2 separate regions of the Homo sapiens genome follow, and region 2 is linked to region 1. A link means that fine-mapping ties the variant in region 1 to the plasma level of a protein whose gene starts in the linked region. Region 1 holds a variant in brackets. A gene starts in the other region. All regions are shown on their reverse strands.

Region 1 (13,718 bases):
CGATTAGCAGCAGAAACACAAGCCAATGCCACCGACATCTCACCTGGTTCAGCTTTCACAATTCTTTCTGAAAAATTAAAGTTGAGAAAATTTTCCACCTAATGACCAAAATTTTTGCATCCAGATCAGCGGCAGACAAGAACAGAGCTTTCAATGGAAATTTTAAACAAGGGGGATCAAGATCCTGAAGAATTTCTTTGAAGAATTGTAACAGAAGATGAAACATGCTTTACCAGTATGATCCTGAAGGCAAAGCATAATCAAAGCAATGGCTACTGAGAGGTGAAAGTGGGCCAGTCAAAGCAAAAGCAGACAGGTCAAGAGCAAAGGTCACGTCAATAGCTTCTTGGGGATGCTCAAGGCATTTTCCTTGTTGACTTTCTTCAGGGCCAAAGAATGATAACTTCTGCTTATTCTGAGACTGTTTTGAGAAATTTAGCCAAAATTCTGTCAATGCCTATAATTTTAAAATTTTAAATATATATTCAATATTAATTTAATATTTTAATATACATAAATATATACTTAATTTTATAACAATATTTGTATCAGCAGAATTACTAATGACTAAACACCTCATTTTTGCCTACTTCAACCCTTCTCCTCTTTACACACTAAAGACTTGGATTTTATGGTTCTTTAATATTTAGACTCAAGTTTGAACTTTAACGAAGTCAGGTGATTCATTGTGAGCATTGAATGGAAGCTGCTCCCAAAAGTGGGACTGGAATTCCTCTGACATCTAGTAAACACCACAGACCTAATAGGAACCTCAAACGTTGACCAAGCCTCTGCTCCAGTCCTGCCCCTCTGCCTGTTCCCACGGGGCTTTAAAAAAAAAAATTATTACTAATTCTCTAGTCACTCAGTATCATATCTTTAATTATTACCTGTTTGTTGACAAGTTTCATATTTATATCTGAAGCTCAGATTTTTCCCCAAACTCCAGAAAATATATATCCACCTGTCCACTGATCCCCACATTTGGAATCATACTAGCACCAAAAACTTACGCCCTAAAGCAAATTTACATATCCCTACCCACATGATCTCATCTCACAATCTTCCCAAACTCAAGTAACAGCAACTCTATTTTCCTGAGTCTTCTCTTCCTCTCACCTCCTTATTCCTTACAGCAGCACATCATCCTGTGTTTTCTTATTATCTTCATGGTCAACTCCTTTATCAAAGCCACCATGAGCTCTCCCCTTAGGTATTGCTCTAACTTTCTGCCCGATTCTACCATGGCTTCTCTGTAGTATATTCTCAACACAGCAGTCAGGATGAACCTGTTAAAGCATACATCATACCTTATCCCTCCTATGTGAAAAACTCCACAAGAGACTCCCATGTCAGAGTAAAAGCCAGGCTCTACAAGGCTCCCTATTGCCTGACCTCTTTACTTTTCAGCCTCCTCCTCGTTTTCTGCACTCCAGGTGCACTGGCCTCTCTCTAGCTCTCCAGACATGCCGGCCACCCACACCCCAATGCTCTTCTACTTCCTGCTTCCTTTCTGCCCTCATTCCTTTTAGCTGCATGCATAGCTCCCTCGTTTCCTTCAGTTTTCACCCAAAAGTCACCCTCTGTGTGATGTTTTCTCTGGCCATGCTACCTCAATGTCAACACCCACTCCTCTCCCCAGCTCTGACGTTTCATATGCCTGCTCCATTTTAAACATTTCCTCCTAAGTGCTTGCCACTATTGCGTGTGCTGTGTGTTTTGTTTATTATCTATCCCTTCCATTGAAATGTAAGCTCCCTGAGCAGAGATTTTTGTATGTTTTGTTCCTTACTGCATCTCCCAAAACTAGAACAGGACCCAGAACATAATAGCCCACCAATTAAAATCTGCTTCACAATTCTGCACAGTGCTTCAAGGATGAGTCTTCAAAGATTGCGATCTGGGCAGCAAGGCATAAGATTATGGTTTTGCACATGCAACACTAAAAGAGCATATCAAGGAAGTAAATTCAATTAAATAAATGAACAAAGAAACAAAGTTGATTTTCATATTGAAATCAATGCATGGATCAGCTAACTTAGCCTATGGAGACATAAACTAAATGCCCCTTTGCATGTCTGAGTCATGATCTGTTTATATATCAAAAGCATATGCAGCAAAGTAGTGCATGGATCAATGTTCTTATAAATGAAGTTCCCTTAAATATCATTTGTTGGTCAGAAACAGAAATACCAGCTTCTCCGACATGGATATTGGACATGTGAATGTACGGTGACAGCTCTGATGGCTAACATAGCATTCTTATAAAATGAAAAAGCACAATACAGTTCCTCACTACTGAGAGCCCTAGGCTGCAACCATTCCTCAGATTGAAGAAAATGTTTGGTGATCTCGTGAGTACCACACTGCCTGTTGTTCAGAAGATGGGTTAAATACTAACAAGGGGTCATCGCCCTCCTTGGATGGCTATTACCATCTGCATGACCCCTTCTCTGGTTTCATCTGTAGAAAAGGTAAAAATAAAAATAAAAATAATGTAAATGTGTCGGGGAGCCAAACAGTACTGCAGGAATTACGCCCTAGTTGCTGGCCATGCACGGTAAAGAGGTAGATTAATATTTAACTAATATCTACCCAGTTTCCCCCTGCAGAGATGGACTCCAGCAACCTTGAAGACTGACAGTTTATTGAAAAGAGGCCCCACATCTTCCCCATCTTTGAATATTGTGAGTCTGACATTTGTCTTGCATGTACTCAAAAAAAATGATCATTGATGGAGTGAGATATGTAAAGCTTTTAGAACAAACTACTGTGTGTCAATTTTCTATTTAATATTTTAAATAGAAGCTGATGGGTCCCCAAAATAAACCCATTAGAACAAAGCAAGTGAACAGACCTCACCAGTATATCTGTCAGCCTTACTTACAATTTTTCATACAAGAGCTATACCGTTAGTTATTCTGTCAATATTATATTGATGAAGAGGAAAGCTAAATTCATCTTCCTGTCTTTCTTTCTGTGCAGGCTTCCACTCAGTGATTCTTCAATTACCTAGTTCAATGACAGGACATTTTTTACTACCCTATTTTCTGTACATCAAGTTTCAAAATATTTCAGGTACTTCCAACAATTTGTCTTCATTGACATTACATAGTTTTGACCATTTGTGTATATCACTTTGGACATAAGTGCCTTCCTCAGCTGAGAGACCTCTGAGAGTCTCCAGTGAGAAGTTAAAGGCTGTATTTTGACTTTAAATGTAATGGCCATCAGAGGATTAGCTCAGAAAAAGGAACTCTTGGCAAAGACTTTGAGTTATATTTCCAGTGTAACAAATTCCAGAAATGAATGACATTCTTTTTTCTATGGTGGTCATAGAATTCCAGATTCTTTGAAACAAAATAGAAGATAATTCGAGCTCTCAAATAAAGAATTATATTTCCCGCAGGCAAGGGGATGAATTGTGATAGTCGGGTAATACATTGTCTTCTGGCAAAGCCATACCAAACTCTCTAGAGAAAAAATTGCACAATTTCCCTCAGCAAACAGTCACAATCCACATCTGTTACTTTCAGGGAAAATAGAACTTGAACACCACATTCTCTGTGACTCTCTTCTTGTTCTGTCATCTTTAACAGTGAAAGCAGCCAGCTTCTGCTCTTTAGTATTGAAGGTCATTCTTTATTTTTGCTCCAACTTTAGCTTCTCCAGCTTAGATAATTCATAGTGATGCTTGGATTTATAGCAAACCAAATGGATTAAAAAAATATTATTAACATGATGAGAATAAAAATGGCAATGTTAAGTATTCCCAACATTCAAAGCTTTCTATCAAAATGGTTATTTAGTGATTTATTTTCCATTATTTTCTCATGAAGTTTGTATGTTTTCATTTCAAAATTTTTAATTGTCTGAACTTCTTTGTGTGCTGGTCTTGTTCTTTCCATTCCAAACACTTCTTCCCTTTTTTTTTCATGCCTAACTTTGCCCATGAATGCTAGCCAAAACTTATATTTTCAGAGCGCATTTTAAAGAAACAGCCATGAATTTACTGAGATTTGAGAGTATTCCAAGAAGATCCTAAAACACAAAATTATTTTTTTCTTTGTTTAACATAATAGTAAAATTACACTATGAGATATGTATCCTTTGGGTTAAACACTATCCTCACTACAGGAGTTTTATTTAAAATTTAAAGCGTAAACTTTTATGGGTCTAAAGCACTAGAGATGTGAGGGGGATAGTGTGATAGACAGGAAGGAGATATGGCTTATTTGCTGGTTATTATTCTCTAGATATGTTTACATCTATTTTTACTTAATATCTGGAACATGAGTACACTGAGCTTTAGAAAACTTATATAACTTGTCCTAAATAACATCTAGTGACTATCAGATTCTGAACCTGGTCAGTAAGAGTATAAGGAAACGATAAAAAACCAGCTTCATCCTCTTTAAATTCAGTGCTCACATTAAAATGATGGGTTGCATTATCCAATTAAATTAAGATTATAGGCACAGAGGCTGGGCACAGTGGCTCATACCTGTAATCCCAGTACTTTGGGAAGCTGTGGCAGGTGGATCACCTGAGGTCAGGAGTTTGAGACCAGCCTGCCCAACATGGTGAAACCCCATCCCTACTAAAAATACAAAAATCAGCTGGGCATGGTGGGGCATGCCTGTAATCCCAGCTACTCGGGAGGCTGAGGCAGGAGAATTGCTTGAACTCCGGAGGTAGAGGCTGCAGTGAGCCGAAATCGCGCCACTGCACTCCAGCCTGAGTGACGGAGCAAGACTCTGTCTCAGAAAAAAAAAAGAAAAAGAAAAGAAAAGAAAAGAAAAGAAAAGAAAGAAAAGATTATAGGCACAAAGACAAACTGTAGTAAAG[G/A]CAAAATACATTGCCAAAATATCCCAAAACATCCTTCACTTCTCTCTATTCAAATTAGTTGTTTGGCCCTATTCAGGAAGAAATACAGTGTGGGGAGGCTGCAGTTCCTCTGAATCATATACACTTGAGTTAAATTACATATTTTTCACTTCCTAGTTGTGTGACTTTGGGAAAATTATTTAATCTTGCTGAAATCGCAGAGCCCTAGTTGATAAAATAAGGATTGTTCTGAAAATAAAATGATTTTGAGAATGAAGAATAAAATGAGAATAAATATTCCTCTTGGAATACCTGGCACTAAATATTTACCACATAAACTAATGTAAGAATAATATACAATCATAACAATAGAAACCATAATAACAGACAGCCTCAGGAAAAAAAAAAAAAAAAGCAAGGCACTGCTTCCTGGACCTTCCAAGTCAATGGAGAGCTTGTAAAACGTAAAACAGAAATCCTCATGTAACGTGAAGACATTTATATTCACTCTTGCATTCAGGCTTATCTATGTTTTGTGTTTCAATAAAGACATGTTGCATTACACAGTTTCATTAGACTTTACAGCTAATCTAGCGTGTGTTTTTAAGAAGATTTACTCCCCAGTCATCCTTGTCGAACAGCGGTACGTCTGCTGTGGCCCAAGTGAGCTCCACCTGCTGCATTAGGCAAGCAGCAGCTGAGGGACACGGCACACCCGGAAACGCAGCCCCTCCCCTGGTGCCGCTCCCTGTTGACTACTCCATCAACTTGGGAACACTCTGGGTTGCATTTTGAGCTACAGATCTCCAGTTTCCCTTGAGTGAGTATTAAACTGCAGAGCTGATGACCGTGAACCAGATTACCATAAAGAGGATGGAAGGTCCACATGATGAACACTGGTGCCAGGAGCTGAGAAAGAGGAGGACGATGGTGTGAGAGAAAAACGACAGATAGCTAAACAAACAGCACATTTTGCCTACTATAACTGTACAGCAAGAGAGGAAAGAACATGAGGCCGGGAACGTATTAATATCTGCAACGCACATGGTGGGCATGAGTGGCTCTGGGCAGATGATCAAGCAGGCCATGCCTGACCTCAAGTTTTGCCTCCTCAAGAATCAGAGCTCTTCACAGGTTCTTAGAACCCTCTGTCTTTCCATGCCTTGCTTCCCCAAGCTCTCTCGTCCTAGCTACCTTCAGCACTTTTACTTTTCTCCCCTTCAACAAAGTCTTTGTATTTCTGCCAACTTTTTCCTAAAACATATAGACAATTGTCATCCTTCAGCCAAATAGAAAAAAAGTGGCTCCCCGTTTTCCCCATAAGGTTGAATTTACACTCCTTATGTGACATGCAAAGATGTTCACAGTCAAAAAGCCACCTCACTCACCAGCCTATCCCCTAGCACTCTGTTCTTGCCAACCACCCAGACACGTGGGACCACTGATGGGATGCTTCACTCCTGCCTGAGATTTTAAATATTCCCCTTTATGTAGAAAGTCATTGTGCCAGCACCACTTTTTAAATAAGCTACCCTTGCCGGGTGCGGTGGCTCATGCCTGTATTCCCAGCATTTTGGGAGGCCGAGGCAGGTGGATCACTTTAGGTCAGGAGTTCGAGACCAGCCTGGCCAACATGGTGAAACCCCGACTCTACTAAAAATACAAAAAAATTAGCCAGTCGTGGTGGCACATGCCTGTAATCCCATCTATTCGGGAGGCTGGGGCAGGAGAATTGCTTGAACCCAGGAGGTGGAGGTTGCAGTGAGCTGAGATCTCACCACTTCACTCCAGCCTAGGTGACAGAGACTCCGTCTAAAAAAAAAAAAATTAAGCTACCTTTTGCCACTGAACTAGAATACAGTTTTTTGTCTAATATTTTATCTCATGTATACTGGGCTTTGGTCCTTGCTTCTATTTGGTTAAAACTATTTGGTGTACTACTTGGTTAAACTAATCTATTTATCTATCCCAATGCCGTATTAAGTTGACTCCAGTGGCTTTGCAGTATTTGCTGACATCTGTTAAATATGTTTTAAAAAGCATTGTCATGGCTATTCCCAAAGTTTTGAATTTTCATATGCATTTTAAGATCATTTTATTCAGTTCTAAATTGGGTACACTCTGCTGGATTTTAATTGTAATTTCATTAAATTTTTATATGAATATTGAGGGAATTGACTGCTAAGGTATAAATAACACTCTGAATCTTGACTGGCTTTTTGAAAATGTCAGATACATTTTCATTTCTTTATTAAAAGCCTTATTAATACGTTTGCCAAAAGGACATGACAAATCATAGCCATTCTGGACATCCTAAGGGCGTTTGCCTTTTTATAGCTTTTTGAGAACAAGAAAAGAATGATAAATGTTAAAAAGAAATAGTGGTGGGGAATTTCTTGGTGGCTGACAATCACTTAACTATTATCACTTTACACATCCTCCAAAACACTGTATAGGTCACCAGCGAAAACAAATAAAACCACACTAATACTATGCCTTCAGAAAAATGACATAATAGAAAACACAGCAAGTTCAACAATAGTAATATGTCAGAGCTGAAACCAATCATATCCACCATATCCACATTTTCAACTCGGCTCACAAGGCAAGAGCCAACCACACGCTACACGCAAGAGACACACCCAAAACAAAGTGACTCAGAAAGACTAAAGGGTCTACAAAATGCACAAGGCAAATAGAATCAATGAGAAAATCGGGATGGTGGTCCTGACAGCACCCAGAAGAGAATTTGAGTAAAAACATTCAGTGGGACAAATTAAACACCATTTAATCATTTTAAATATTTCACATTAATATATAGAAGGTATTCATACTTATGCACCAAGTAACACATCAACTTGTTCATAAAGTGGAAACTATGAGAGATGAATGATAGACAGAAACATATTCTCGGTGTGAGAGATATCAGATGGACAAAAAATACGGAAGGGTATTAAAGAGCCCCAAGTACAAGCCTAGACAGTTTCCCCTTAACCACACACACACACACACACACACACACACAGAGAGAGAGAGAGAGAGAGAGAGAGAGAGACATATACACCCATATAAACTATGAGCAGAAAGTAACAAAGTGTTAAAAAAGAAAAGAAAAGAAAGTGTCAGGGTAATAGGACATGTCAGAAGAGTACAGGAGCCAGCTGAAAGTATCAACAAAGGCCAAAGCTGAAACACTTTGAGCATTAAGTAATGTCGGATTATAACCCAAATATAAACATCCACGGATTCAAAAGATATAAATGGTTGAATAAATTAATAAATATGAGAGAAGAGACAAATCTCTCATACAGTAAAATTTCCCATAATTTATGTAGATACCCGCCCCCAACCCCTGCAAAGAGGTGAAGCCTAACTTCGCATTCCTTGGTGTGGGCTGCACTTAGTGACTTCCTTCCTGGTGCTCAAGGCCAACATTAAGGGTTAAAAATCATGTTGATAATATCTCCACTGCATAGGATGTGATAACAATGCGACTTTTACTCTGTGGTCTTCCCCCCAGTAACTCCTCATCCCACTCTTCTCATGAGAAAAACATCAGACAAATCCCAATAGCAGGCATCCTGCAAAATCCCTGAGCAGTACTCCTCAAAACTATCAAAGTCATTGCACACAAGGAGCAAGGAACATCTGAGAAACTGGCACAGCCACAAGGAGCCTAAAGGGACAGACACCCAGATGCCATGTGGTATCCTGAATGGGATCCTGGAACAGAAAAAGGATAACAGGTAAAAACCAAGGAAACCCGAGTAAAAGATGAAATATGGTTCATAATCCATCATTCTGAGCAAACTATCACAAGGACAGAAAACCAAACACTGCATGTTCTCACTCATAGTTGGGAACTGAACAATGAGAACACTTGGACACAGGGCGGGGAACATCACACACCGGGGCCTGTCGGGGGATGGGGGACTGGGGGAGGGATAGCATTAGGAGAAATACCTAAAGTAAATGACGAGTTGATGGGTGCAGCACACCAACATGGCATGTGTACACCTATGTAACAAACCTGCACGTTGTGCACATGTACCCTAGAACTTAAAGTATAATAATAAAAAAAAGAAATATGGTTCATAATAATATATCAACATTGCTTTAGTATTTGTAACATATGGTACAGAGTATATAAAAACTATATTATTTTCTCTTTTTTTCTGTAAATGTAAAACTCTTCTGAAAAACAAATTGTACTATAAAGAAAAAAAAGAAAGCATGGTGACTTCGAGCTACTGAAGGGTTCAGATTCTAATGCAGTGTTTCCCAGTTCCTACTAAGATATTTTCCCGGATTTGTTGCTGGCAAAATATGCCCAGGTTTTTTGTTTGAAAAGGAGTTTTTGGTCTGTGAGAGATAAGACAGGAGGTCCATTTGCAAACAGTTCCTTAAAGCAGGTAACTGTTCACTTCCTTAGGAAGGCTGGCCTCACGTGAGGTCCTGTCCTAAATAAACATTTTGTTATTGTTGGTGTGTATGAATTCATTATTACTGACAGCCAGGGAGTCATTTGGTGATTAAAAAACAACAGGATGGAAGGTCATTTTTATTGGCATTATGTACTTAATCATGCAGTCAATGGCTTTTATAGTTAAGCAGTAAAATAAAGCGCCATCAATTGAACAGAATATACAGAATGCTCCAATTGACAAAATCGACACATTTTCATGCTACTGCTGCCTTTTCTCTCTTCTTCCTTTTGCAGGTAAACTTACTGAATGAAGTGAAATCTGCTCAACACCCCCACTATCTTATCTTCCGCATTTATTGATCTCCAGCAATCAGCCTTGTGCTCCTGCAGGATTGAAGCTGCCCCCACGAAGGTCAACCACACCGAGGCTGCTCTCTCCCTCTGAGTTACACGCCTCCCTTTCACACTTCTTTCTGAGTCACCGGGTCTGCCGCACCTGCACAAGGGCCATCCTTCCTGTCAGCTCTGCCTGCTCAGCATCTGCACAGCCCATTCGCTTCTCCCCTCTCTCTCCATGACTGCCAAAGTTCAAGCCCTCTTAACTAATTTTCTTTTCCTCTCTCACTCCGACAAACCATCTATGGCAGTGATTCCAATGTAATCTTAAAAGTAAATGTATACCTATGTAACAAACCTGCACGTTGTGCACATGTACCCTAAAACTTAAAGTATAATTTAAAAAAGTAAAAGTAATAATATCACTTTATCATTCACAATAAATCCCTTATTTAATTCCCATTGCCTCCCAGTAAGGTTGAACTCCTTAACATATCATATGAGGACATAATGAATAAACACCTTTTCCAGGCAGATTTAAGCCCTCTTATTACTTATGTCCCCGCTTCCCCATCCCAACACTTAATCTTTTGTAAAGTTTCACCACACTGTCTGTACATTTCTTTTTGTACAGGAATATAGAAATACCAGAATTGAGGTGATCAAGGATATGTTAGAAGTTTTAACCTCAAAATTGTTGAAAGAATGGTTGGTTGAATTAATTTAAAAACCTTGAAAACTTTTAGAATTACAGATATTAGATAAGAACCACCTCAGTGTCTTGAGAATAATACACTGCCTACCACTCACTGGGATAAAATATAAAACGTAAGACTCCCGACCTTAGGAGAGCTCAACAGTCTCAGCGGACAGGCTGATACATAAACAACTAAATTCACACCAAAGGCATGAAGTAAATCACAGCAATAACACAAAGATCCAACATTTATGGAGCACTTAGGATGGACCACACTGAAAATTATTCCACATATTTCATGTCATTCAGTCCTCACAATTATTGAAGATATATACTGTTAGTAGTCCCATTTTACAGATACGGTGGTACACCTAGCTTAAGTGAGTCTCCCAAGTCATGCAGCTGGTAAATTAAGGATCTGGGTTTGATCCCGTTTGGCTGATTACAAAGCCTGCCCATGGAACTGGAGGATATGAAGCATACTTTTGAAACCGACTTCACAGTTATACTTTGTAAATACTGCCAAAGGGTCACATAGTGAGAAAGGGAACACAGAGTTTTTCGTAGATGTAAAATGTTTACTAAGTTTCATTAGCTGTATTTATGAGTAACGGAGGCTGCGGTGGATTTCCTATTTCCATCACAGGAATACTTCTGCCCACTTCTATATTCTCCCTTGTATTTACAGGGGCTGAAACCCTGAAACCTACATTTTCCGGTTGCCAGCAGGATTTTAACTTAGACTGCACCACCAGGAGGCACCCACTCAGGCATCAGAATCAGGAAGAGGAGTGGCAGCCTCTATGCTTCCATCAGGAGCAGGCAGATGTGTGAGCTTCCACAGCCGGTGGATATGGAGTGCGGGAAGCTGCCGCTTCCAAGGAGGTTCCTGCAGATCACCTGCGTTGGTCCGCAGGTCGCTGAGATCATCAGCCAGCCATGTGTTCCTGCGATTCTTGACTTCCTGAAACCAGCAGCCATTTTCCTTTCTGTTTACTTTCCCAGGCATTCTGACAGTTTTCTAACCTCCATTTCATGTGTTAAATCTTCTCAACTTGAAGCACTTAGAATGATTCCTGAAAAATGCTTATTGATACTCAGGCCCTGTATTACTTTTCTAGGGCTGCCATAAGAAAGTATGGACTGGGCTGCTTAAACTACAGAGATGTATTATATCAGAGTTCTTGAGGCTAGAAATCCAAGATTGAGGTGTCAAGGTGGTTCCTTTTGAGGGCTGTGTGGGAAGGCTCTGTCTCAGGCCTTTCTTCTTGGCTTGTAGAGAGCTGTTTCCATGTTTACCTGGCATTCTCCCAGTGTGTGCACCTGTGTCCAAATTCTCCTTCTATAAAGAACCAGTCTTTTTGGATTGGGGCTTACACTAACGACCTCACATTAACTTGGTTACTTCAGTAAAGACCCCATCTCCAAAGAAGAGCACATCCTGAGGTAGTGGGGTAAGACCTTGACCAGATCATTTTCGGAGGGACAAAATGCAACTCATAAAATGCCTGAAATGGGCTGGGCACAGTGGCTCATGCCTGTAATCCCAGCACTTTGGGAGGCCGAGGTGGGCGAGTCACTTGAGGTCAGGAGTTCTAGTCCAGCCTGGCCAACATAGTGAAACCCTGTCTCTACTAAAAATACAAAAATTAACCAGGTGTAGTGGAGCATGCCTGTAATTCCAGCTACTCGGAAGGCTGAGGCAGGAGAATGGCTTGAACCCAGGTGGTGGAGGTTGCAGTGAGCCCAGAATGTGCCAGTGCACTCCAGCCTGGGAGACAAAGTGTTTCAAAAAACAAACAAACAAACAAACAACAACAAAGAAACAGTGATTTATACAAGATAGAAATTAATGAAATTAATTCAATTCATTCTTTCTCATGGAATTCAGGGAGGGTATATCCACAGCTGGTTTACTGTTCTACAATATCCTCAGAGAGCCAAGTTCTATTTTGTCTCAGTTGTGCATGGTTATCTTTTCCAAATTCATCTCATAAATCAAAACTATTACTCCAGCACCAGGTATGATGCTATTCCAGCTAACAGGAAATGGTAATGGGCAAAGAAGAAAACAGTAAAGAACAGGAGCTAGATAACTTTTAGGGAAGTTTCACCAAAACTGTTCACATTTTCCATTACCTTCTGTTGCCTATAAGTATATCAAATAGCCACATCCATCTTCAGGGTGGGACACTGAGCAATGTAACCTTCTGAGAAGTAATTAACCTGGCATAAACTTCTGTTACCAAAAAAGAAGAGAAAGCATATTGGAAGTTGCCTAGCAAAATGTGCCAGGCTGAAAATACTCCAGAATTATAGGCTGTGGTCTCTGCTTTTTGATTGGAAGTAACGATAAAAAGATTCTAAAAAGATGTTGCTTAAATAAATCAAAGGAAAAACTGTCTAACCTGAGGGTTACATCAAATCTGATTGTTATTTCTGAAAGCAAGATTTCTTCTTTATCAAACATCTTCGCATGCAGTGTATGTGTTGAAAATGTTGTCAAAGGAAGACTCAGAGACAGAGTCACTTAGAAAAGAAAAGGTTTTATTTGCAAGGAGTTCTAGGGGAGTCAGACTTCAGAAAACCTGGCTCAACAAATATAAAACATAAATATTTTTAACAGTTGCAAATCACAATGTTTAGTAAGTTTATAGTAGTCTACACTTTCAGGAAAAAGCAATTTCTCGTGCAGTTATGATATTCACAAAGTTCATAATATGTATTCAGATATCAATATGTAAAAAATCGGGAATAAAATTTTTTGTCATGAAGTCCATATTTATGCAAAATAGTCAAGGTTTTATTATTTTAGGTATCAGAACCAGTAAGAATGATCTGTTATCTCTTGGCTTATCTCAAGGTACACAGTATTTTTTTTTCAGACTGTTGCGGCCCAGGAAGTTCTTAGTCATAGCAAAAGCAAGGCAAAGTCAGTTTTTGTTTCTACATTGTCAGACAAAATCTCAGTTCCTTCCTCTATGCTTCCATTTTTCCTTTTCTCTCCTAGGTAACAAGGACAAGATATCGAAATTGATCTTCGTCTTAGAGAGTTTTGAAAGCTCAGGTCTCCCTTCTTTGGCCTTTAAGATAAAATATTAAGATACCAATATTACATGCCCTCCTATACTCCTTGGTTTCCAAAATCATCAGCACTTACATTATCTCTTGCTCTACTGAAATCAACCACCTCAAAGTCCTGGTGATTTCCTTCAGTTCCTTAGAAGAAACAAGTGTGTCAGGAAAGGGAAGGAACAGTGACCCCGCCCAGGGCTACCCAAAACACAAAACAGGTAGAACATGAGGCTAGGCTTAATCACAATTACATTACCATCTTCTCTTTTTAAAGAGACAATTAATATATTATATGAGTGTTTGAGATGACTGCAGTTCCTGAGAAAGAAGCTTTCTATTATGGGCTACTTAGGAGTC
Region 2 (15,687 bases), not on the chromosome of region 1:
ATAACCAGCAGCAGATCAACAAATATAAAATAGCCGGGTGAGGCAGGGAATTGCTTGAACCCGGGAGGTGGAAGTTGCAGTGAGCCGAGATCACGCCACTGCACTCCAGCCTGGGCAACAGAGTGAAACTCCGTCTCAAAAAAAAAAAAAAAAGAAAAGAAAGAAAGAAAATAGCCAGGTGCAGTGGCTTACGCCTGTAATCCCAGCACTTTGGGAGGTTGAGGTGGGTGGATTGCTTGAGCTCAGGAGTTTGAGACCAGCCTGGCCAACATGGTGAAACCCCGTCTCTACAAAAAATACAAAAATTAGCTGGGTGTGGTGGTGCACACCTGTAGGCCCAAGCTACTGGGGAGGCTGAGGTGGGAGGATCGCTTGAGCCCGGGAGGTGGAGGTTACAGTGAGCTGAGATCATGATACTGCGCTCCAGCCTGGGTGACAGAGTGAGATCCTGTCTCAAACACCACCAACAAAAAACAAAACAAAGTATATTAGGGATTCCCAGGGGCTGGGGCTGGGGCTGGGGTTGGTTGGGGGGAAGAAATGGGGAGTCATTGCTAAGGGGTACAAGTTTCTCTGGGGTAACGAAAATGTTATAGAATTAGATAGTGTTGATGGCTGCACAACCTGTGGATACACTAAAATAAATAAATAATAAATAGTTACTTGATTACAGTTACTTAGCCTTTATTTTGTTTGTTTGTTTTTTGACAGAGTCTTGCTTTGTCGCCCAGGTTGGAGTGCAGTGGCACGATCTCGGCTCAGTGCAACCTCCGCCTCCTGAGTTCAAGTGATTCTCCTGCCTCAGCCTCCCTAGTAGCTGGGATTACAGGTGTGTGCCACCACACCTGGCTAATTTTTTGTATTTTTAGTAGAGACGGGGTTTCACCGTGTTAGCCAGGATGGTCTCAATCTCCTGACCTCGTGATCCGCCCGCCTTGGCCTCCCAAAGTGCTGGGATTACAGGCGTGAGAATTTGCCTTTAAAATATACATTTTGCTCAAGTGTAGAGGTCCGATGCTGGGTGGCTGGGTGTTAATTATCCTGGGGGCGGGTGTGGTAGGGCACTAGCTGGGCTGGGCTGGGCTCGCTGGCGGCTGGTTTGAGAGGAGGGTGATTCAGAGGAAGGCAGTGACACCCAGATGTGGGACAGGCTGCAAGAAAGCCTGGTGGGCCTTAGGGCAGACACTTGTGGGGACCCGGGGAGCCCTAGGTGCCCTGACAGGTGGAAGAGGGGTGCAGAAAGGGAGGATGTCAAAGAGAGAATGTCAAAGGTCATAACCAAACCTAACAATTTTCTTCTACTTATGCCTTTTGTCAGGACAAGGAGAGGGACAAATTCCTTCTTGGCATCCTTATGGCCCTGTGACCTGCTAATGAATGCTGACTCTGAGTTGCTACTAGAATTTGGTTTCCTTGTGGCTTCCCAGGAATTGTGAGCCATGTTGGATAAGGACCTGCAAGGGAAGAATGAGGAAGCCTGGGACAGTGCAGGAGGGGAGAGCACTGGTGGTAGAGAGGAGTGATGACAAGGGTCTCCGCCAAAAGGGAAATGGAGGGGTTAAAGAAGCTGCTGGGGAGGGTTAAAAACAATGTGTTCTCACTCGTAGGTGGGAATTGAACAATGAGAACACTTGGACACAGGAAGGGGAACATCACACACTGGGGCCTGTCGTGGGGTGTGGGGAGGGAGGAGGGATAGCATTAGGAGATATACCTAATGTAAATGATGAGTTAATGGGTGCAGCACACCAACATGGCACATGTATACCTATGTAACAAACCTGCACATTGTGTACATGTACCCTAGAACTTAAAGTATAATTAAAAAACAAAACAAAACAAAACAAAAACAATGAGGTGCTATTGTTTTAGTGGTGAGTATCCGGAGACCTGGGAGTTCTATTTACCAGGTATAACCTGGGCTCAAAATTCCAGGCTGACTTCAGGCATGTCCTCATCTCATAGATGCCAGCACTAAGGCCCAGAGAGGGCCGAGCTCATTCAGCCCACCCATCTTCTCACCCCTGACTGCATTTCCCGGGGGTCCTTCTGCAGCCAGGTGCTGCTGTGGTACTTTGGGATCTATTGGCTGAGCTCCCAGAGAAGGGTCATGGATTGGGCTAGTTTGGAACAAGTGAAGGGACTGAAGATGGGCTCAGTATGGGGCGAAGACCTTCAGGAAGGGTCTGCAGAGTGAGTAGGGGGGTTTTGACTAGGAAAAGTTCCAACCCTGCCGGGGCCGCTGTCAAGAGAAAAGCATCTATTACAGTTACATTTTTAAGTTAAGTAGACTGAAGAATATTTCTTGTGTATTAAAGACGTTCCTTTTTGGTTGATTTGCAATGGAAAAGCTTTTGTTTTCTTTTTTTTTTTGGAAACAGGGTCTCACTCTGCTCACTCTGTCTCCCAAGCTGGAGTGCAGTGGTACAGTCACGGCTCACTGCAGCCTCCACTTCCTGGACTCAAGTGATCTTCTCACTTCAGCCTTCTGAGTAGCTGGGACTACAGGTTCGTGCCACCACGCCTGGCTAACTTTTTGTATTTTTAGTAGAGACAGGGTTTTGCCATGTTGCCCAGGGTGTTCTTAAACTCCTGGGCTCAAGGGATCCGCCTGCCTTGGCCTCCTAAAGTGCTGGGATTACAAGTGTGAGCCACTGCTCTGGCTTTTTGTGTGTGTGTGTGTGTGTGTGTGAAAAAGGGTTTTGCTCTGTTACCCAGGCTGGAGTGCAGTGATGTGAGCAGCCTGGACCTCTTGGGGACCTCTTGGGCTCAAGTGATCTTCCCATCTCAGCCTCCCAAGTAGCTGGGACTGCAGGTGCACTACCATGACCAGCCAATTTTTTTAGAGACAAGGTCTCACTATGTTGCCCAGCTGGTCTCAAGCTCCTGGGCTCAAGTCTCTACAAAATATGCAAATACCCTTCTGCCTTGGCCTCCCAAGTGCTGGGATTATAGGCATGAGCCACCACATCTGGTGTTGGTTTTTGTTTTTGTTTTTACGGGACCAGGCACTACAGCTCACACCTGTAATCCTGGCACTTTCAGAGGCTGAGACTAGAAGATTGCTTGAGCCCAGGAGTTCAAGGCTGTGGGGAGCTATGATTGCACCACTGCACTCCAGCCTGGGTGACAGAGCTAGACCTTGTCTCTAAACTAAACAAAACAAAACCCAGTACCAAGAGACCCAGTGACACCAAACACGTTTTGCAAGTAGGTAGTTTAATAGTTACAGTTACCTGGTTCTAAAAAGTGTCTTGCTAGAGAACATTTGTTCAAAGGGGCCACTTTAAAGCCTGCTATTCTAGTGTATACTGGCCGTAGTTTCTGAAATTGTAGCGAAGATGGAGAAATAATAACAGCATTCATAAGCACAACTGCAGATATTATACTTCTTAGTTTAAAAAAAACCTTTTTTTTTGGAACTATAAAATAAAAACACAGGCTACATACATACTCATTTTCTCAAATTGGCTTTTGTGCAAAAAAAGGTTGTTACCTATTGGGTTGCTTTGTTATTTCCTTAGAAAGATGTATTCCAAATTCCCAATGGCCAACCTGCACATGTGCACTCTGGGAACACAGTCAGTTTATTGGTTGGGGGTTGCTTGCCCGAAATCTGGGGTCATAGAGCCACTTCTCTCATTTTATTGTCTTGATCCTATCCATAGACCCGTTCTCACCAATCCCTCAAATTCTATTTATCCCTTTCCTGGAATACTAGATGTCTGCCCACGTTAATTCATGCCCCACCTAGGGTGCCGCATTTCCCAGCATTGGCTCCACTTGCTGTGAGCCTTGAAGAAGGCCAAAGCTTTGGCCCCGTCATCCTCCTTGCACCCCCAAACCCGTCACCAGCCTTGCTCCCCCAGATGCTTGTCCATCGTCCCCACCTACACACCCTTGCCCACCTCACCAGAGTTACAGTGCCGACAGCTCTCACAGTGGGGCCGGGTGTGGTGGTCAGGAGAGAAGGAGACCCCCGGTATGCAAGGATCACACTGAGCAGCCTTTCTATGCTGGTCACAGTCCTTCACGAGGAATGTTCCTGGGAGGAGAGGGTAAGGGATCAAGGCCTGAGAAGGGCTGGTTCTCTGCCCTCTTCAAGGTGGTGCCTCCCCACAGCTGCAGGATTTCCCTCCTTGCTTGAGCTCAGTCTCACCCTGCGCCTATTTACTGTATTAACCCCAGTCCTCTCTCTTTCGCCACTCACCTGGCCCTTACCAAGGCCCCCTCTTACCTGGCTCACACATCTGGCAGCACAGCTTTCCCTGAGCCCAGTAGTGCCTCTCTGGGCAGCTCTTGGGGGCTGGAGTAGCTGAGAGCCCCACCAGGGTCCCCAGAACGCACAGCCACCAGGGATGTGGCCGTGCCATGGTCCCTGCCCAGGCGGCTCCTTTCTGTGCCCAGTTGCTGATGCTGGCCTCTGGAGTTAGCACCTCCAAGCTGGGCGCTGCTGTCTCTTCTTTGCACCCCCTGGGCAGTGGCTGCTTCAGGTGGCAAGCCAACCTTTGAAGGCAGAATCTCTATTGTGGCTGTTTTTTTTTTCTCTCTCATAGCAGCAACCTCCACCCCCTTCCCCTTCCGTGTGCTGGGGAGAGTATTAAAGAGCAAACTCTGTGAGACCTGCTGCTCTTCAAACATGCTTCCTCCAACACATGAGCCTTCCTTAGTTTCCGCCTCTCCTGCTCATGAAGCACGTAGCCCACTGACTCCTGCTTCTTTGACAAAAAGGTGATGGACACACAGTTGCTCACCCCTCCTATTCATGCACTTGTGCACAAAGGTGCCCACGTTACCCCCCCCCACCCACCCCCCCGTCCACAGTTTACAGACGAATTCGCAGGACTCCTGTCTCCCATACCTGCATCCCTCCTTTCACAGACAACAGTTGAAAGAAGGAAGGAGAACCAGAATTGAGCACAGGTCCACAAGCTCTTATCTGAAACTTTGGGGGTCAGATAAGTTTTGGAATTCAGAATTTTTCAGGTTTATACAGAAACCAGCACCACAAAACACCCTTGGGGAGTTGGGGTAGTCTCATAATCAAACGCAACATTTCTGCAGCAAAACTATTGAATATTTACACCAACTGGGAGGAAGCTTAAATAGCCTTGTCTCAATTGAGGTCTGGTTTGATGGCCAAACGAGTTTGCTACAGAATGCTCAGAATTGCAAGCAAGGGGTGTAGAGCTGCCTCTCTTCTGTCACACTCTGACCGATCACCTATGCTCTCCTTTAATCCTCATGTCAGTCTCTGATGTGGGTGCCACCTACTGCCCACATGGCCTTCCCTCTCAGACCCTTGCTCACTCCTCACTTTTGTGCCATCTTTATCCTCCCCTTTCCCACCTCTGGCTGTGTCAGTCACTGGTGTCCTGGATCGCCTGGAGCATCTTCTCTCCTAGCCTTGGGCACTTGGGATTAAAGGTAGCTTCCTACGGGGGTCATCTCTTTTTTATTTTCCCAGTTCTCCCAGCAAGACTGATTTCGGGATATTGGAAACAGCTAGACTTTTCCCTCTTTGAGTCATGGGGACACACACGGGTCAACAGCCTCCTCCACTCTTTCCTCAGCAACCGATATGTGGAGTGGCTTATTTCCCCAGGAAGTTTTTAATTTAGGGGCTTTGCCGTTGTTTCCACACTGTTCATAAATGTCACACTGCTGTGGTCACACCTGTCAGATCTGTTCTCTATCTCACTCTGTAGTTTCCTTTCTCCTCATTTTCTCCATTCTCTTGTCTTTTCCCAGCCCCCTCTGCAGCTCTTCATGGGGGTCCACTCAAGTCAGAAGCCACATTTGGGTGTGATTCAGAGAGCTGTTTATGCAAAACCAGCTTTGTCACCATCAGGCAAGGCACCTGAATTCCCACCGCAGAGAGTGTTGTGGCCGTGAGGACTTTTCTGTCACCAGCCATTTCCAGGTTGTGGTAAATGTGTTCACTGCAGGCATGGGGCAGTGGGGTGGCTAGCTGACTGCAGGCCCTGGGAGGGTGGATGAGACCCTCAGAAGAATCATGAGGAACTGGGGACCTTTAGGAAGAAACTTGTCGAACAGGGACTTGCAGTTCGCTGAGCCTAGCAACCTTGAACCGACTGGGAACTGCTCACTAGCCTAACGCTGCTGTCCTCTGGGCCAAAGCCCATCTCCTCTTTTCTACATATCACTTCTCCAGGGGGTCAGAGCAGGAGCAGGGTCTGCCTGGCTTTCCTGGAGGGCCTCGGCCAAGAGGAGGAAGGCCAGGTTTCTGGACGTTTTTCTTTCCTAGGCAAATAGAATGAGCTCATCTCCAGCACTCTTTGCATCCACTTCTGGTGAGCCTTCCCCATCCTAGGCTGGCTCCCTGGACGGGACCTTCCTTTTTTTTTTTTTTCCTCCCTCCATTTCACTCTGTCACCCAGGCTAGAGTGCAATGATGCAATCTCAGCTCACTGCAACCTCTGTCTCCCAGGCTCAAGCCATTCTCACGCCTCAGCCTCCTGAGTAACTGGGATGACAGGTGCGTGCCACCACGCTCAGCTAATTTTTGTATTTTTAGTAGAGATGGAGTTTTGCCACGTTGGTCAGGCTGGCCTCAAGTTGATCCGCCCACCTTGGCTGGGATTACAGGGGAGAGCCACCGCGCCCAGCTTATTTTTTGTATTTTTAGTAGAGATGGGGTTTTGTCATGTTGGCCAGGCTGGACCAGAACACCTAGCCTCAGGTGATCTGCCTGCCTCGGCCTCCCAAAGTGCTGGGATTACAGGCACGAGCCACCATGCCTGGCTGGGCCCTTCCTTTTGTCTAGAGGCCCTGGGATGCAGCCCGCTGACATCTTCCTTGAAATCTCACACAACCACTTTCTCTTTTGGGGTCAGCCTCTCCCCCATGCCTGGCTGGGGCATAAAAACATATGGTATTTTCTCAACAGCTCCCTGCTTTTCTTTCCTTTCCAGAAACAGGCCCACAGCAGCCCTTCTTGAGAACTCTGAGGACTCTCATGACTTTTTTTGGTTCTTTTTTTTTTTTTTTTTTTTGAGAAAGGGTCTCTCACTGTTGCCCAGGCTGGAGTGCAGTGGCATGATCTCAGCTCACTGCAACCTTTGCCTCCCAGGTTCAAGCGATTCTTATACATCAGCCTCCCAAGTAGCTGGGATTATAGGCACCGGCCACCATACCCGGCTAATTTTTTGTATTTTTAGTAGAGACGGGGTTTCACTATGTTGGCCAGGCTGGTCTCAAACTCCTGGCCTCAAGTGATCTGCCCTCCTCGGCCTCCCAAAGTGTTGGGATTACAAGCGTGAGCCACTGTGCCTGGCCTCTCATGACTTTTGAGAGGGCCTGACCAACCCTCCACCTGGCCCAGTGACTGTAGCCTAGATGTCAGCCAGGGGCACCCTGCTCCTTAAAATCTAGATAAGATGCTCTTTGCTTCCCACTCAGGGCAAGTCCTGGGCAGGCTGTCCACCTGCATGAGTTCCAGTAGGTTGGGTGTTCTTGTGGCTGCCTCTGGCTCTGATTTCTCTTTCAGCTAAAGTCTTGTTCTTGCCTCCGTGTCTCCTGTCTGTTCCCTTACCTGTACCCTGCCTCAGGCCCAAATTGTTGGACACAAGACTTGCTTAAAGTTTCCTCTAAACCAGCTCTAAACAGAAGGCTGTTAGGTGTGGCAGACTTTGTCTTTTTTCTCCAATTTTTATGAATCAATAACCTGTTAAAGCGCTCAGCAGGACCAGTCTCTGCAAGACCTTTCCTTAGGAGGAAGTTCTGTTATGGGACAAAGATGTCCGCAATCACTGTTCCTGACTTAGGCTTCCTGAGTCTCATCACCTGAAGCTCTGAGTTTGTCTGGCCCTCTTTGTCCCCTGCTCCCCATTGCTTCCTCCCCGACTCCCACTTTCTTCGATGACCACCACCAGCACTGCTGCCCCCACCACCTTAAAGCCTCCTTCCCAGCAAGGCTTTGAGAGGCCACCTGGTCAGGACAGTGAGTTAAGCTCATTAATGAGGTTCTGGGTCCTCGCAGCTCTGTAATTTTCATTTCTGCACCTCCCCAGTCTGGGTGACACAGGAGACTGACCAACTATGGGTATTTCCAGCCTCTGCCCACTCCTCAGAAGCCCAGCACAGCTCCCAGTGTCTCCTAGCACGTAAGGCACTGGCTAAACATTGGATGGTCCAGCTCAGCTTTGTGCTGTAGCGGCTCTGTCCACAATTATAAAATGGAAACGTCAGAGGGCTCAAGGCCCCTTAGACCTCCTCATTCATTTGACAAGCGTTTTTTGCACATTCATTTTGTGTTAGGAACCAGCCAAGTAATGGGGCACAAAGATGAAAAACAAACAGACAAATATGTGGTTTCTGCCCTGACGGAGTTGACACACCAGTGTGAGAGTCAGACATCGATCATATAATCTCAAAGACAAATGTAAAATTGGCCAGGTGAGGCGGCTCACACCTGGAATCCCAGTCACGTTGGGAGGCCGAGGCGGAAGGATTGCTTGAGCCTAGGAGTTTAAGACCAGCCTGGGCAACAGAGTGACACCCCGTCTCTACACATAATAAAAATAAATTAACTGGGTGTGGTGGCACGTGCCTGTGGTCCCAGCCACTCGGAAGGCTGAGGTGGGAGGATCACTTGAGCCCAGGGGGTCGAGGTTGCAGTGAGCCATGATCATGCCAGTGCACTCAAGCCTGGGAGATAGAGCAAGACCTCATCTCACAAAACCCAAAAAACAAAACAAAATTAAAATTAGTTAGTAATGGTCATTATTGCTATGAAGGAGAGAGTTGGGGTGCAATATAGGTGTCTATACCCCTAATAGGGGGATTTAAGGGGTAGGGAGTGCCTCATCCAGGAAGCAAAGTTTAACAGAGATATGTGGGATCTGGCAGCTCTCCACCTACATGAGAATTATTACTTCCCTTGGTTTCTGTGACACGATTCTATTTTCCTTGCTTTGACCACTTGTTTTTTAAGTGCTATTTTTTATTTTTTTATATACAGATTATATACAATAGGGATAATCTGTTCCTTGAAAGCCTGGTAGAACTTGATTTGCTTGTGTGTAGCTGTTTCACTGTTATTATTATTATTTTTTTTAGGCTGTCTTGCTCTGTTGCCCAGGCTGGAGTGCAGTGGCATGATCTTGGCTCACTGCAACCTCCTCCTCCTGAGGTCAAGTGATTCTCCTGCCTCAGCCTCCTTAGTAGCTGGGATTACAGGTGTGCGCCACCACACCTGGCTAATTTTTGTATTGTTAGTAGAGACGTGGTTTCACCATGTTGGTCAGGCTTGTCTCGAACTCTTGAGCTCAAGTGATCCACCTACCTTGGCCTCTCAAAGTGCTGGGATTACAGATGTGAGCCACTGCACCCGGCATACTTTGCCATTCTTTTTCTAATGTATTGGATGCTTAATTAATTTAGAAATTTCTTATTTTCTAATATATGCATTTAAGGCTATAAACTTCCCTTGAAGATCTACTTTAGCTACATCTCATCAGCTTTGCTATATTGTTTTTTTCATTATTGTTGATTTGCTTTTCCCGTTATTATTTATTTTTACCTATATTTCATTTATAAATGCATTACAAATTTTCCAGATCTGTGGGGCTTAACTTTTTGTTGTTTATTATTTTAATTTTAAATTTATTGTGGCCCGAGCACTCTGTCTGTGTAGCATGGCAGGCAGCACGTTGGTCCCCCGAGGACATCTGCGCCCCTGAACTGCATGTTAATATGGCAAAGGGGAGTTAAGGCTGCAGATGGAATCAAGGTTGGCCTTGCAATGGGTGATTATTCTGCATTATCCAGGTAGACCCAGTGTAATCACAAGCATCCTTGTAAGTGGCAAAGAGGCAGAGGAGACAGCGCCAGAGAGGCAGCTGCATGAGAAGGATCAAGATGTTGCTGACTTTGAAGTTGGAAGAAGAAGGCCATGAGCCTCAGTATGTGGGCGGCTTCTAGAAGCTGGAAGGGGCAAGGAGATGGATTTGACCCTTCAGCCTCCAGGGGCAGCTGTACCTGCCATCACTGATTGTAGCCTGGTGAGGCCTGTTTTAGACTTCTGACCTGTAGAGCTGTAACATAATACATTTGGGTTGTTTTCAACCACTAAGTTTGTGGTAATTTGTTGTAGCAGCTGTAGAAAATGAATACATATGAATCCTCTGGCATTTGTTTGAGATTTGCTCTATGGCCTAGTATGTGGTTGTAAATGTTCCATCTGTGCCTGAAAAAATGTATATTTCTAATTCAGTAGTCTCTGCTTTTTTTTTTTATTTTGTACCCCATCAATAAAATGATTTTCAGCATGTATCCCCAAATAAACAATATTTTATTTATTGATTGATTGATAAACAGACATGTTTAATGATAGCTTGCTTTTCACAGAGGTGACTTCGGAGACTTCTAATCTATAATCCAGGAGTATATAACCATGCAGCACAGACCAATTAGTCACATGTAAAATAAACTAGATTCTTACCACAACTACCCTGTAAACATGGCAACTATTCTTTCCAAGAGGACCCTAATCTTATGTGAAAACACCTACTGTGGGGGAACCAGAAACCTAGCTATGTGGCCAAAAGTAAAAACCAAAGGAAAAAATAGCAATTCAGTGGTTAATTGGTGAAAGCAGGGAATTTGTGCCCTTTACTGTGCTGCTGCTTTGGTCTTTTTCCTTTTGCTCTTTTTGTCCCTCTTCTCAGCCCGTCCATGTTAGCTCTCAGTAGGTTTGAATAAGCCATCTGAAACTTACTCACTTCCTTGGAGTTCACCACAGTGCTCATCTTCTTTTTCCCATCGATAGCTCTTAACAGACACTTGTTGTCTGAGGGCTCAAAGCCCTCCACAGAACCTTTCTTTGGAATGGGTTTGGTTCGACCATCATACTTCTTCAAGGTGATATAGACGCTGCCCAACGTCCGGCACTTCTGGTAGAGTCTGGTCAGCTCCGTCAGGAATTGCTTGCTCTCCAACGACATCACTGCGGCGACGCTGGCTCGACTCCCCACAATATTTTAAATAAATTAATCATATATTATATACTCAAATAGGTTCTATGTAAGTATATGTAGACATTCTAAAGTTCTAAAGGATGAGATCGAATTACATAGTCACATACAGAAACATAAAAAGGATGAGATTGGCTAGATGCAGTGGCTCATGCCTGTAATCCCAGCACTTTGGGAAGCTGAGGTGGGAGGATCGATGAGCTCAGGAGTTTGAGACCAGTGTGGGCAACAACAACAAAATAATAAAAGTAAAATAAAAACAATGAGATAAGGATAGGAAAAACAATTTTTAAAGATATCACATTTACTTATTTGCAACATAAAAGATCTAGTTGCTCTCATTAAAATATTAATAGGTAACAAAATTTTCCACAATATAATAAAACATTAACAGTAATATATTTAGTAAGAGCAATATGATTTAATGTGTTTTGTTATTAAAAAACTTTCCTCAACACTTTATATAGATTGATCTGAGTCTAAGCACAAATATTTGATTTTTATGACTGACTTAGATGAAAAAGTTTCTCTAGGTCAGACTGTTTCAGGTGTGTTTTCTAATTTTGAATCAAAAGTGCATCTTCAAGCCCATCACAGTGGCTCACACCATAATCTCAGCACTTGGGGAGGCTGAGGCAGGAGGATGGCTTGAGGCCAGGAGTTTGAGACCAGCCTGGGCAACACAGTGAGACCCCACTGTACTCCAGTGCCGGTGACGGAGTGTGACCCCATCTCCATTAAAGAGAGAGAGAGAGGGAAAGAAAGTGCATATTCAACAGGCTTTTTCTGTGGGCCACCTTGGTGGTTGGGTTGAGTACATGTCCCTTCAGTGTTTTTGCAGTTGCTTTTGTCAGACGCCCCAGGGATGTCACTGGCTTGAGACCAGTTTTCATGTTCTTTTCTTGGGGATAAAGGAGGTTTCCCAACCACGTGGGTAATATAAATTTTACCCCCATACCTGGCCGAGCACAGACCTATAGTTATGTTTTTGTTGTTGTTGTTGTTTTTTTTTTGAGACGGAGTCTCGCTCTGTCACCCAGGCTGGAGTGCAGTGGCGCGATCTCGGCTCACTGCAAGCTCCGCCTCCTGGGTTCAGGCCATTCTCTCGCCTCAGCCTCCCAAGTAGATGGGACTACAGGCGCCCGCCACCACGCCCGGCTAATATTTTTGTATTTTTAGTAGAGACAGGGTTTCACCGTGTTCATCAGGATGGTCTCAATCTCCTGACCTCGTGATCCGCCTGCCTCGGCCTCCCAAAGTGCTGGGATTATAGGCGTGAGCCACCATGCCCAGCCTCTTTTTTTGTTTGTTTGTTTGTTTGAGACAGGGTCTCCCTCTGTTGCCTAGGTTGGAGTGCAGTGGCAACACAGCTCAATACAGCCTCAATCTCCTGGGCTCAAGCAATCCTCTTGCCTCAGCCTCTCGAGTAGCTGGGACCACACCTGGCTAATTTTTTTTTTTATTTGTTATCTTTTTGTAGAGACAAAGTCTTGCTATGTAGCCCAGGCTGGCCTTAAATTCCTGGGCTCAAGCAATCCTCCCACCTTTGCCTCCCGAAGTGCTGGGATTACAAGGCGTGAGCCTGGTCACACTTTCTTTTTTGGGACTTGTCACACTTGTGATTTTACGTGATCTGTGATTTATAGGATTAATTTTGATCTGAGGTAAAGCTAATTTCTGAAATCAGATATTATGTAAATTGTTAGGTGTAAGGTTTGAGTGCTGACTACTGAGGTTTTCTGACTCTCAGTCTATGTAGCCAGGGAAGGGCAAGACCTATAAAAGGAATTTCTCAGATACCAGGCAAGGGGAGAAACAGTGAGGGAAAGATGTCGCTATGAAGGGAGCAGTCTTGACCTGGAACTGAAGGGTGGTTCCAGGGCCCAAACCCACTGAGACAGGAGGATCCTGGGATAGGTGGAGAGAGCTTGACTTTCACAACCAGACAGGTTGGTGGTCCAAATGCCTCTCTGCCGGCTACTACCCGCATCATGTCCAGCATGTCCCACAACCTCTTGACTGAGTCCTCATCTGCTTGAGGATAGTGTCGTGCACTTTGCAGCATGTTGGGACAATTAAGGGTAACAATAGAAATGAAATGTCTGGTCTTGTCTTGTTTGGGTACTCAATAAATATTCATTCCTCCTCTCTCTTCCTTGGTATTTGAGGCTGCAAGTCCCAAGAAATGGGGTTGAGGGAACAGCTAGTTAACCTGGGAACGAAACCAAAGGAGTGTGAAAGAGACAGAACGACTCACTAAATTGAACAAGCTGTGCATAGGCGATATGTCTGCTCTGTATGTATTATTCATACTCGGTTCTTCATCACGCAGAATCATGATTTCACAAGGCGACGGGACGTTTCCTCTCACAGTAGGCTCCTGGGCCCCTGGCATTTTTTTTCTTTCTTTTTTTGAGATGGAGTCTCACTCTGTCACCGAGGCTGGAGTGCAGTGGCAAGATCTTGGCTCACTGCAACCTCCACCTCCCAGGTTCAAGCAATTCTCCTGTCTCAGCCTCCCAAGTAGCTGGGATCACAGGCATGCGCTACCACTCCTGGCTAATTTTTGTATTCTTAGTAGAGACGGGGTTTCACCATGTTGACCAGGCTGGTCTGAACTCCTGACCTCAGGTGATCCACCCGCCTTGGCCTCCCAAAGTGCTAGGATTAGAGGCGTAAGCCACTGTGCCCAACTGCCCCTGGCATTTTCTACTCGCTTTTTTTTTTTTTTTTTGAAACAGGGTCTTGCTCTGTCACCCAGGCTGGAGTGCAGTGGCACCATCTCGGCTCACTGTAGCCTCGACCTTCTGAACTCAAGCAATCCTCCTGCTTCAGCCCCCCAAAATATCTGTGACTATAGGCATGCGCCACCAAGCCCAGATAATTAATTAATTTATTTTTTTTGAGATGGAGTTCCGCTCTTGCTGCCTAGGCTGGAGTGCAATGGCGCGATCTCTGCTCACTGCAACCTCTCCCTCCTGGGTTCAAGCGATTCTCCCGCCTCAGCCTCCAGAGTAGCTAGGATTACAGGCATGCGCCACCACGCCCAGCTAATTTTGTATTTTTAGTAGAGACAGGGTTTCTCCATGTTGTTCAGGCTGGTCTCAAACTCCCGATGTCAGGTGATCCGCCAGCCTTGGCCTCCCAAAGTGCTGGGATTACAAGCGTGAGCCACCGTGCCCTGCAAGCCCAGCTAATTTTTGTATTTTTTGTAGAGATGGAGTTTCACCATGTTCCCCAGGCTGGTCTCGAACTCTTGAGCTCAAGTGATCTGCCCACCTTTGCCTCCTAAAATGCTGGGATTACAGGTGTGAGCCACCGTGCTGGGTGGCTGGGCCATTCTTGCTCTTCTGAGTGACTTCCCTTGCTCACCAGATGAGGGAAATGGCTCATGGAGCCAGTCTGGTGATCCTCCCTGTGGCGGGGAGGGAGGCACGCCCCACTTTCCCCAGCTGTTTCTGAGCCTCATGACTGTGAGCCCTGAGAGGGACCTAAGACCTTTGTTTCCCCTGCTAGTCCGTGGTGCGGTGTCTGAGCCTGAGCTCTTAGGGCAGCTTCCTTCCTAGGGCCGTGCTGGAGCCTGCTAGTACTGCCTAGCCAAAGCCCGATCCTTACATTTTCAGGAATTTTGTGAGGTTACTCGTTGGTAGCTTGAAATTGGCCAGCTGGCCATAGTAGGAATACTTACAACCACATACATCAGCAAACGCCATAGATCAAGGGCTTCCCACTCCGAGAGCTGGCTGTTAACCACCGCACCACCACTACTGACTTACTGGGGTGAGGCCCAGTCATTACTTTTAGTCATTTTTTGGGTCTTGGAGAGACAGAGTTCTTTCCTATCTGGGCTCCTGTCCCCTCCTCCTGGCTTCTAGGTAGAAGGTCCTGTGGGCCTATGGGGAGCCCCCATCTTACTGCTCCAGCCAGCTTAGGATTTCAAGCCAGCAGGGCTGGAAAATGATTCCAACCTTCGGCTTTACCCTCTCACTCTACAGCTATCAGAACCGTGGGGTGCAGAGGTGAAATGACTTTCCCTGTGTGGCAGAGCTGGGAGAGAACCCAGGTCTCCTGAACCCCAGTCTACTGTTGACGAGCCCCTACAGAGTGGACGCCTCAAAGGTGCTCATTTCCTGTGCCGATCTGACTGTGTACTCACAGTACCTTCCATGCTCAGCCTGCAGGCATGGCTCAGCCGCCCTTCCTGCCTGTCTTCTTCTGGTCTCATAGACCGTTCCCTGCCCTTTCACTCTATGAGCCCATCCCAACTGCTTTCTCTTCTTTTTTAAAATTGAAATTTAATTATAAAAGCAATATTCATATCACCTCCTTATAAAAAATTAAACCAGCAAAATCCATCATTTTCATCAGTAGGTAAATGCACTAAGAGTGCTTGTACCTGTGCCCCAGGAGACATATGCAAAAATATTCAAGCACTACTGTTTGTAATTCCAAAAGAAAAAGCAAGCAAGCAAGCAAGCTGCTGTGGTGTCTCACACCTGTAATCCCAGCACTTTGAGAGATGGAGGCGGGCAGATGGCTTGAGCCCAGGAGTTTGAGACCAGCTTGGGCTACACGGCAAACCCCCATCTCTACTAAAAATACAAAAATTAGCCGGGCGTGGTGGCACATGCCTGTAGTCCCAGCTACTCTGGAGGCTGAGGCATAAGAATAGCTTGAACCTGAGAGGCGG

Direction of the effects. Positions count from the first base shown, and alleles are read on the strand shown. Strength reflects both the effect of a copy and how common the allele is.
As copies of A replace G in region 1, the plasma level of the protein whose gene starts at base 4,514 in region 2 goes up (weak association).

The links. A credible set is the group of variants that fine-mapping cannot tell apart. PIP is the posterior inclusion probability: the model's chance that the variant is causal. The UK Biobank Pharma Proteomics Project read protein levels with antibody pairs (Olink). The fine-mapping took linkage between variants from a reference panel, not from the people measured, so its PIPs are less certain.
Region 2: CD27 starts here. The variant in region 1 is the best candidate, but not a certain one, in a credible set for the plasma level of the CD27 protein (UK Biobank, PIP 0.54).

Annotation. Positions count from the first base shown.
Region 1 is chr13:108,342,588-108,356,305 of GRCh38, reverse strand. The region is part of intron 2 of LOC105370355 (a long non-coding RNA gene); the gene reads right to left. Among named protein-coding and RNA genes, the nearest start is that of TNFSF13B, 80 kb to the right of the region's middle. The variant G/A (reference allele first, on the strand shown) is at 4,849.
Region 2 is chr12:6,433,782-6,449,468 of GRCh38, reverse strand. It overlaps CD27 (CD27 molecule), which reads right to left and starts at 4,514. Exons shown (of 6, transcript NM_001242.5): 1 at 4,238-4,514; 2 at 3,914-4,045. The coding sequence starts at 4,373. CD27-AS1 (CD27 antisense RNA 1) reads left to right here. Exons shown (of 6, transcript NR_015382.2): 2 at 732-829; 3 at 1,319-1,432; 4 at 2,382-2,508; 5 at 5,752-5,923; 6 at 9,793-10,468. It also overlaps the pseudogene SRP14P1. RefSeq lists enhancers at 3,234-3,353, 4,063-4,242, 4,273-4,332, 3,877-4,378, 5,283-5,332 and 2 more and silencers at 6,413-6,492, 6,593-6,732.